Linked DNA regions of Homo sapiens. The protein of the gene in region 1 purifies or fractionates together with the protein of each later gene. This does not show direct contact. Each region holds a gene or a part of one and is shown on either strand. Other genes may lie near its edges. The genes, in order: RIOK2, BEND3 and DCK.

Region 1 (3,099 bases):
ATGTTAATATTTTTAATGTCATTATTTACAATATTAAGGTAAAAGAAAAACTTGCAGTCTTTAAAATCTAACAACATAGGTTTTGTGAATGACACAGTTCTCTATAAAAGTATTGTAGCTTTGGAGTTATCCCCATACTCCTGGTTATTACACAACTGTGTAACCCATGGCTTTTCTGAACTTTAATCTCCAGCCTCCTTACACAGGTGCATAAGATGGCTCCAGTACTTCATAAACTAAAGCAAGGGCGAATTAAGATATGGCCTGATGCTCTCTAGGGAGATGTTCTAAGGAGGGATAAAGAAGACTGGGCATGGCGAACTGTAGCCCACCCAGAGTGCTGAATCTGTGACAGTGAAATAAACCTACACTTCAGAAAGTGCTCTGAGAACCTAACATAACTCATCCCTCTATCCTTTGTAAGTAGCAACCTGGAAGGCAGCATCAGGCAGAGTTTTTTAATTAGACAGCTATGTATTTTGTCAGAAAATTTACTAAGCAGTTGGCTAAAAGAATGATTATCTCGAGCTGCACTAACTCTGATTAGTATCCATTAAACATCTATGGTTTTGGAGAAACCTCAAAGATAGCCAGCTATGTGCCAAAGAACAGACCAATGGCTATCAATACCACAAAGTTAGCACAAATATAAACCGCATAGTTTGTAGGAAAAGTTTATTTAATGGGGAGACTAAGACGATGCAAGATGGTTACTAGAAAAACATCTTTCAGTCTGGATAAATACACAACAAAGGATCATAGCTGAAATACCAGTGACCATCACAATAGGAAAGGTGGTCAGCTTGTGGAATTTTCCTTTTGGTAACCTTAAGAAGTCATTTTAGCAGTACTAACCATACAGTATATGTCAGGCACTGTAATAAACTCTTTACAAGTGGTACTTCATTTAGTCTTCACGACACTGAGGTATACTATTAAATGTCCCCATTTTACAAGTAAAAAAATTGAGGTTAGAGAGGCCACAGAAGGTACCTGAGGTTTGGGAAGTGTAGAACCAGGATTTAAATCTGGAACTCCTAGGCAAAAAAAAGTGTTTTAACAATCACAATATACAGCTTTACATTAGTAAAATTTTGAATTTGTTTTTGTTCATTGTTCACTATGCATGTTTTAAAATGTGAGGGTTATAGCTTATCTGTTAGGACAAACTCTCTAACTTCTAATTGATGGCTAGCCAAACATATCTTCAAAAAATAACTATTATAATTATACCTTAGTTTTCAACAACCAAAACAACATATCCAAAAAAAACTAAATTCCTTAACAGATCATTTATTAGTAAATCTTCAATAACTAGCACTAATCTTTGCCCAAATGAGGTAAGGCCTCCATTTCTGATTGGAATAATTAATTCCTTGGCCCACAAGAAATCTTAGGCTATTAAAGGTAAAAATCATGTTTGTCTTGAGTTTCTTAATAGTAATGGGCTTTTTATGTAGTAGATACTCAAAAGTCAACTGAGTCAACTAGGTAAAGCTGAGCAGGATAAGGCTTTATTCCCAATTTGCTTTCATAGCTCTGAATATAAGAAAATGACTCCAAAATAAACATTCTGTGGTTCTATTAAGCTGTTTTCAACTTTACATTATAAAAATGCTTAAAAGTTGAGAGATTATACAAAATGAATACCTGAATTCAAAGATATATCTAAAATGCAAAGCAAGGGTATTTAAATATTTGAATGTCAGGTAACTTTTGAGGGAAGAGGAATTGGCATTTTCTAGCTTCTATATATTTAAGCCAATTTATTAGATAATTACAGGTCTTGCAAATAGCTAGTAGAGTTAATTTGGCAAAGGTGAAAGGGAATCTGCTGTCTTTATCAATCTTGGAAAAGTCTGTACTATATTCCCTCTGGTAGAACATAATTAGGGATGCAAGTAATCCTGTTTGGTGACTATGGGGTGATATTGCCATCTAGTGGCCATTTTTCGCTGCAAGTGATCCCCTTTTCCGACTTATGCGGCAATGAAGAGACAATAATCAGGTGCATACACTTAAGCACTCATCTTTACATCTCACTGAATTATAAAGTCCTTGAGGAAGGGACCATGGCTATGTATTTTCTTTCCTGCATTAGGTATTTGTTAACCTTGAGGTGAGAACATGTTCCGGACCCACTTATATAATAAGCATATGAGAAAGAACATTTCATTCCTCATTCTACTCCACCTTCCCCAACCCCTAACTCTTCTGCTACTCAGGCCTGCTTACAAGCTGCCAACTGTAAAAATTGTGGTAGACTATCTCAAGTAAGTTTCCATTCTCATGACCACATTACCAATGTAAGTGGCACAAAACAGATTATTAATCAATTAATTAAGCAAATTGTGCATCACTGGCTTATCTTTACTTCCAAAGGCTTATCTTTACTTCTAAAGAAAAATAAGACAGTGAAGTCCTCCAGTTGCCAAATAAAATGCAACCAAATTGTCAGCAGAATTTCAGAATCATTATGATTCTAATAGCCATGTTTTATTGAATGCTTAAGAATGTGCTAAACATTGTTCTAATTGCTTTATGTGCATTGTAGCATATCATCCTCAACAAACAGAAAACAACAAAAATGTTATTTAGATTTTTAAAAATATGCAAATGTCTCTAATAAAGTTACGTAACTGTAGTTACCCAAATTACTTTGAAAAAAATGGACTGCTTTGGCAGGTAATTATTCTTTGCAAGACACATACTGAATGACCAAATTTATAGATGAAAGAGGGTTTATTTATTAATATATGATAGCCTTGGCTCAAAAAAGACAAATGAGGGCTCAAAAAGGAATTACAGTAACTTTAAAAAATATATTAAACATATCCAAGATCCTAAATATATTATTCTCCCCAAAAGCTGGCTGCTTCCAAACTTGATTTGATATTTTGCATGTTTTCCCTACGTTGCTTGGTAAATATATTTGCTTCTCCTTTCTGCAATCGACGTCTGACAGCTGATTTTTGCTGTTTTGTCAACTGACGTTTCACCTTCTGTTTCACCAGTTCCTGGAAAGATTTCATAAATTAGTATTACTGATAATGAACCATTTCAAAAAGTACACTGCTAATATCTGTTCTATTTATATAT
Region 2 (3,658 bases), on another chromosome or scaffold:
ATGGGAGATGACATGGTCTTCTAAGCAGGGGGCGGTTGATCAGGATCACTGGCCTTTTCCCTGTCCAGCCCATAGATTTCCAAAAGGACATTCTCTAGTGAACCCATAGGCGGCTGGGAGTGGCCCGGGGTACCTTTCTATCAAGTTCTTTGAATAGTCAGTTGCTGTGGAGAGAGCAGACAGACCAGGTCTTTTGGGACAGCAGCGTGAGCCTAATCAGAGCTGCCAGAGGCCTGTGGGCCGGGGAGTCACACAGGACAAGCGGCAGGCCCAGAAATGGGAAGTACTTGGGCTTCCTGCAACCTGGAGGTTCAAATTCCAGCCAGCTGACTCCGGATTTTACCCTGCTAGATCAGAGATGTCCTCGCCACTGTGCTGAGGTGCCAGTCCAGGAAGACCTGGCCCCAGCAGCCCTGACCTCATGCCACTCAGGGGCAAATCCCCCTTACCCCTAAGAGCTGTTTCCAGATGCAAACTGAAGCAAACTCTCACTACCAGAAGATTCCCTTGAGAATGTGGGCCCCAGAACAGGAATGTGATTGGAACCTGAAACAATAGGGATGGTGGCTGTGTGGCCCCTGCCACACACAAAAGGTAAAGTGGAGAGAATATGCTCAGTCATTAACAAAACAAACTCAAGGATTTTAAAAATTTAACCAAGACCTAAACCTTACTTCAATCTTTTCACAATTGCCATATGTCTGATTTGATTTCAAGGAACTTCTCTGCTACAGGTGACATTGACTTCTAAAAATTAAACCTAGAAGAGGGGGACAGTAGTTAGTATTCATGTGGCACAGGCTTCATGTTCTAAGTGTTACATATGTCAACCCACACAGTCCCCACCAGCACTGCTTCTTGTGCAGATAGGGAACGGGGCGGGGGTGGGGTGATTTGTGCTGCCCAAGGGATGCAGCTGAGACCAGGGAGTAGGAAGGACTTCAGGAGACTCCCGGCATGAGAGCTTCATTCCAGCCTTCCAAGGAAGCTGGGACTGAGGAATGGGCCATGACCTCCCAGCTTTCTTTCCCTCTTCCTGCTAAGCTGTGAGCTGGGTGCAGGTGCATGAGCAAGTCAACAAGCCAGATGGGCCAGTCTGTGACCAAGGCAGGAATTAGTGCAGGTGACCCTCCAAAAAATGGAATTCTTTACTAAACTTTGGAGTCAGATGGAACTGCATGAAACCCTGGCTTTTAATCCAGTTTTTTCATTTTTTTTTTCCCCAGAGATGGGGGTCTTGCTCTGTTACCCAGGCAGAGTGCAGCAGTATGATCAGAGCTCACTGTAGCCTTGAACTCCTGGGCTCAGATGATTCTCCCATCTCAGCCTGTGAGTAGCTAGGACTATAGGTGCACGCCACCACACCCAGCTAATTTTTTATTTTTTGTAGAGACAGGGTCTCCAGGTGTTGCCCAAAATGGTCTCAAACTCCGGGCTTCCAGCAACCCTCCGGCCTCAGCCTCCCAAAGTGCTGGGATTTCAGATGCAAGCCACCACACCTGACCCTTAACCCAGCCCAGTTTTCAAAGAGGGCTTTTTTTTTTTTTTTTTTGAGACGGAGTCTCGCTCTGTCGCCCAGACTGGAGTGCAGTGGCACAATTTCGGCTCACTGCAACCTCTGCCTCCCGGGTTCAAGTGATACTCCTGCCCCAGCCTCCCAAGTATCTGGGATTACAGGCATGCACCACCACATCCGGCTAATTTTTGTATTTTTAGTAGAGACAGAGTTTCACCATGTTGGCCCAGCTGGTCTGGAACTCCTGACCTCAGCTGATCCACCCGCCTCGGCCTCCCAAAGTGCTGAGATTACAGGTATGAGCCACTGCACCCAGCCCAAAAAGGTTTTTAACCGAGTTAAAATATTTAGCATCTAACACCAGGCCAGCTGTTTACCTACCCATCCAAGCTGTATTCTGTAATAGGAGCTGGACACATCTACCTCACCTCAAAAAGTTTTTGTGAAAACTACAAAGGAGAAAGTGTCTGACACATAGCACTCAAAGTTACCTATTATAAAGCTTCTTTTTTTTTTTTTAAGGAAAAGATGTTTAAAGTGCATTTTATTTTTTTATTTTTTTGAGACAAAGTCTCATTCTGTCGCCCAGGCTGGAGTGCAGTGGCACAATCTTGGCTCACTGCAACCTTTGCCTCCTGGGTTCAAGCGATTCTCCTGCCTCAGCCTCCCAAGCAGCTGGGATTACAGGTGGGCACCACCATGCCTGATTAATTTCTGTATTTTCAGTAGAGACGGGGTTTTACCATGTTGGCCAGGATGGCCTTGAACTCCTGGCTTCAAAGTTCCACCTGCCTTGGCCTCCCAAAGTTCTGGGATTACAGGTGTGAGCCATCCCGCCCAGCCTAAAGTACATTTTAATAGTGAATTTTTAAGAACTGCAAATTAAATAAAATGGCTTAAAAGATTAAAAAGGTTTAGTAACTTTTCTTTCCAATGAAACATAGAAACTGGAGGGAGGGGGATGAAACCAAATAAAATGCTCTCCCTGAGGACAGGAGGAATGTTCCCATGCCATCCACTCTGGTGCCGCGGGTCTCTGGGTTCACAGGACCGGCTGGGAGCCTCAAGGGTCTCAGGACCCAGCCCCCTTGGCAGTGGCATCCTGCCCAAGGGACTTGCAGGACATGTTCGCAATTTGTTTTTATTTTTAGGCACATCTGCAAATGCAGTTTGAAAAATACCAGTCCTCACAAAACCAGGGCAATTTTCCCCAGAGTTTTTCTAAAGCTGTAATTGTAGCTGCCTTCCTTATTCAGTCAGAGCACAACCTCATCTTCCGCATGCAGCCAAGCACAGCCGCACAACCCTGCCCGCGCGCCTGTGATTTGGCGTCTTAATCTTTGGTCACTTGCGTCTTCTGAGTCTTGAGTAAATGTGCCATCTTCCTCAGCTAAGAAGTTCCACTTACGTTCTCCCCAACCTCGTGGAGGGCTACCTCCTCACATGGCTCACAGGAGACTCTGCGTATTAACCTTGGCATGCAGAAGCTGAGGCTCAAGGTGGAAGGAGGGACCGCACATTCCAGCATCCAGCCATGTGACTGACTGCACAACGGTGACTAATTTTCCTAGGAGGTATAAGCTGAGTTTCCGCTGCACTTCCCATTTTATCAAGTGTTTTATTTTGTGACCACACAAGCTGATTAGGGTTCGGGGCAGTTGGGTGTATACTGCACCCCCAATCCTAAGCAAGCCTCAGTCCTTCGCTCTGCTAGCTCCATGCTCAAACCAAAACAGCCCCTGACATACAAGAAAAGGCCAGTAAATGACTTATTCAATTGAGCAATCAATGCCCTGATACTGATGCAACTGTGTTTCACTAGTCAGAAATAACTGAAAATCAGACAAGAGGAGAGGTGGCCACAGGTAGAAAAAAAATTAAGAGGGTTGATTGATTGATTGATTTGAGATGGAGTCTCGCTCTGTTGCCCAGGATGGAGTGCAGTGGTGCGACCTCGGCTCTCTGCAACTCTGCATCCCGCGTTCAAGCAATTCTCCTGTCTCAGCCTCCCGAGTAGCTGGGACAACAGTCATGTGCCACCACACCTGGCTAATTTTTGTATTTTTCACTAGAGATGGGGTTTGGCCATGTTGGCCAGGCTGGTCTCGAACTCCTGGCCTCAAGAGATCCACCCGCCTCAGC
Region 3 (3,541 bases), on another chromosome or scaffold:
TGTCATGTTTCTGAAGCACATATGTGAATCACATACTTTGCAATGTCAGTGTGTGCAGAAAATCATGTAAGGAGTCAATGAACCTAGCCTACTGACCATAATGTAAGAATATGCTTGTTCTCTACATATTCTAGGCTACTCAATAATTCTCAAGAAACAAAAATTATTGCCTTGTAAAAATACCTTAATAAGAAAGTCAACTGCTAGCATTATTAATAAAAGTAAATATAATAATGTGAAATGATTCTTAGTCAAAACAAAGAAGTGTTAGATAAAATTAAAAAGTGATTTACAAAGTCAGTTAAATTGATGGTTGGCTGTTAATACTTAATGCTGACTTTTCATTTAATAGTATTGTAAGTGAATTTATCCTATATTTTTAACATCATTAGTAGTATGAAGAGGTCATTGGAATTTTCCAGATAAGCTTTAGTTCATACCATGGGAAAAACAACTACATGTATACGCTACAGTAGTTACATAAAATGTCAAGATTTTCAAAATCCTTGATATATCCCTTATGAATGTCAAGTCTCTATTAAACAGCAGACATTATGCCACAAAAGAAAGGAAAAATCAAATTTTTCTCAAAACTAAACCAAATTGTGCTTTCTTCTTTATAGCTTAATCACTCAGTTATCAACATGGGTATAGGGATATTTGTTATACCAATTCCCTTACTATTCTCTCTCAAATATTCATCAATAAATTCTCACCCATTCCCTTTATCAATATGGGCACCACTCACTTAACAGAATATAGTCAACTCCCAGTGATTTGGGCAATAAATGAACTGTGATTAAGACAATGACTCAATGATTAAGTAATGTCAATTAATCCTTGACATGATCCCAAATGAAACTCAAAACTAAAATCCCTTAATCTCAAGACTTTGGCCAACATAAAAATAGATGAGATCCATATCCTGTAACTTTAAATATCCTCCATATTGAATTTAGTTGAAAAAGATAAATTTAATTTCACAAGCAGTTTATTATTAAAGTATCTAAAGATTGGTGGTGTAGGGAAGAGAGGAAGAAATGGGGACAAAGCAGAGAAAAAGGGGGTGAGAAAGAATTTTTGTTATTATAATTTTACCTATCCTACAGATAGAGGCACTAAAGGATAAAAAAAAATCCTTATTTTATTTTTATTTATTTAATTTTTTTCTAAGATCTGTCAGATTCTGAGATTCCGAAGGATCTTTATTTTAGCTCAGGCCACAAAGCTAGAATTTAGTCAGGACTGGAATCTTAAACAGTCCAAAATCTTCTAAAGCTCTTAACTGTTTCTTAATGTAACTTTATGGAAGCTTTTCTGTTAGAAAATTGTTTTCTCACCACTCAGTACACTTTTTTAGAAAAAACAAATATTTGTTTGTAGTCTGTCTAAATCTACCTTTTCAACCAGACTTTCATATTTGTCTTTAAAGTCTTCATTAACATCCAGTGTTAAGATAGGCACCTCTTGAAGATAATCGAAGTTGGTTCTGTTTAAAAAGAGAGATTAATAAAATAATCAGAAATTCAACAAAAAAAAGAGAGAAACATTAAAAATTCATTCGTATGTCCTTGGAAAATCAAAATGTTGTCAATCATTTACACTAAAGTTACTTTGCAGTACTTCATCTGGCAGCCCCTTCTTTCTCATCTAGATTTACCATATGGAGCCCAAAAACTTAGGTACAAAATATATACAGCTGGGTACTGTAACATATGATTCTCTTCAAAAACAAATAGCAGTCAATAAAGTAGGAATTTCTGCATTTTTAAAGATGAGAAAACTAAAGCTCAGAATTGTCATTCTGAAGCTCAGAGGCTATCCAAGGTCACACACCAGTAAGACTGGACTTGAGCCAAGATCTGACTAATAACAAAGTCTATCCTCTCAACAACCACGCTATACAATCTCCCAAGTCAAAATTCTTTCTGAAAGAGTACCTAAATAATGTTCAGATATATTCCTACTTTATCACTTAAAGTGAAATTTCACATATTACGCTATCAATACCACCAAGGGATACTAGTTATAAAAACTTTAAGTAAATAGGATCTCATTGCAATCAAGAGAATGAAAATCTATACCTAGTTCTGGAAGATACCAATAAGCAAAACGACTGGAAATTTTACATATTGCTAGTCATATCTTCCAAATTTTAGATTAAAATTTAACAAAGGTAACAAAGGTATTTAAAATGAATAGTAAATAAAAATAAGTCTTACTTCAGTGTCCTATGCAGGAGCCAGCTTTCATGTTTATAATGAAGCTTCTCTAAATATTCAAGAGGAATGCCTTGCTCTTCATTTCTTCCCCGTAAATATATTCTATGTAAGCATGTCTAAAAGCAAGTAATAAGAGATGGAAGAAAAAGGCAGGGAACAATTATTCTTGTCTGCTGCCATCAAAATTTTCTTTTCTGTGTCTCTCTACTCACGCTAGCCAAAATCTCTACTTATTACTTCTTAAAAGCTGAAATAATTCATTTTTCCCTCCATGAGCTTTTCAGCCACTTGGTGGCTCTAAGCCAAGCAGTACTTTCAAAAATAAGCCTATAAATTTTTGGTATCCATCCACACATGAAATATACTAAGTTTGATAAAAAGGAGAAAAAAATTAAACATCTACTTAAAATGTTCAGAGACAACAGCTAAAAGGTATGCCAATCTATAAACATAATCTTACTTTGCTGTTAACCAACCTTGATTACAAAATATCTATGTTCAGTTCACATAAAACCACTAAAGACAGTGGTTCTTAATGTGATGAAAACTCTATATCAGCACAACCAAAACAACTTTGGAATGTTTTATGCCTGTCCTATATCTGCATTATCAAATAAGGTAGCCACCAGCCACCTGTGGTTTTTAAGCACTTGAAATATGGCTAGTGTGGTGACCAAGGAACTAAATATCTAAATTTTATTTAATTTTAATAACCCTAAATTTAAATAGCCACATTGGACAGTGCAGCTCTAGATAACGGTCCCCCAAAAGCACACATACATAAAAAATTTCGTATAATTTGTGGGGGCTCATATACCATGAGAAACTCTTCATGCATTCCAAGAAATAAAAGCCTCCAACCTAAATGACATGCATAAGACCATGGCAGCATACAAACTGTGTTTCAAACTCTACTCTAAATTCTCTTTTCAATAATTAAACAATCCTTTCATCCAAAGATATCAGAAACAATACTGATGAAATTATCAGTATCAAAATGAAATTATTAGTATTATTTATGTTTTTGGTGTTTGTACTATTTTCATAACTTTAAGAAACCTTTTCAAAAATAAAAGTGAATTTCAAAATTATTATATTTGCTAAATTCTAGCTTAATAGTGACTATAAATGTTTCAAGCAAAATGAAATTATTCATATTCCTTATGTTCTTTTTCACATTTTTATTTACTATTTTTGTAATTAAAAACAAAAAAATTCAAAAATAAAAGTGAATTTCAAAATTCACTTTTGAAATTGCTAAAAAATTGCTAAATCCTTGCTTAATGAAGAACAAAATCTTTACTTAATGAAGAACAAAA

What was found.
Region 2: the proteins of RIOK2 (region 1) and BEND3 purify together in Homo sapiens (affinity purification with mass spectrometry; one large-scale study listed by BioGRID and IntAct). This does not show direct contact.
Region 3: the proteins of RIOK2 (region 1) and DCK purify together in Homo sapiens (affinity purification with mass spectrometry, with the first as the bait; one large-scale study listed by BioGRID). This does not show direct contact.

Annotation. Positions count from the first base shown.
Region 1 is NC_000005.10:97,160,209-97,163,307, forward strand, and holds the end of RIOK2 (serine/threonine-protein kinase RIO2), read right to left. Parts: intron 3,018-3,099; coding exon 2,853-3,017; 3' UTR 659-2,852; downstream 1-658. UniProt on the Homo sapiens protein: Serine/threonine-protein kinase involved in the final steps of cytoplasmic maturation of the 40S ribosomal subunit. Involved in export of the 40S pre-ribosome particles (pre-40S) from the nucleus to the cytoplasm.
Region 2 is NC_000006.12:107,105,403-107,109,060, forward strand, and holds part of BEND3 (BEN domain-containing protein 3), read right to left. Parts: intron 761-3,658; exon of another isoform or gene 675-760; intron 1-674. UniProt on the Homo sapiens protein: Transcriptional repressor which associates with the NoRC (nucleolar remodeling complex) complex and plays a key role in repressing rDNA transcription.
Region 3 is NC_000004.12:71,024,613-71,028,153, reverse strand, and holds part of DCK (deoxycytidine kinase), read right to left. Parts: intron 2,339-3,541; coding exon 2,223-2,338; intron 1,490-2,222; coding exon 1,399-1,489; intron 1-1,398. UniProt on the Homo sapiens protein: Phosphorylates the deoxyribonucleosides deoxycytidine, deoxyguanosine and deoxyadenosine. Has broad substrate specificity, and does not display selectivity based on the chirality of the substrate.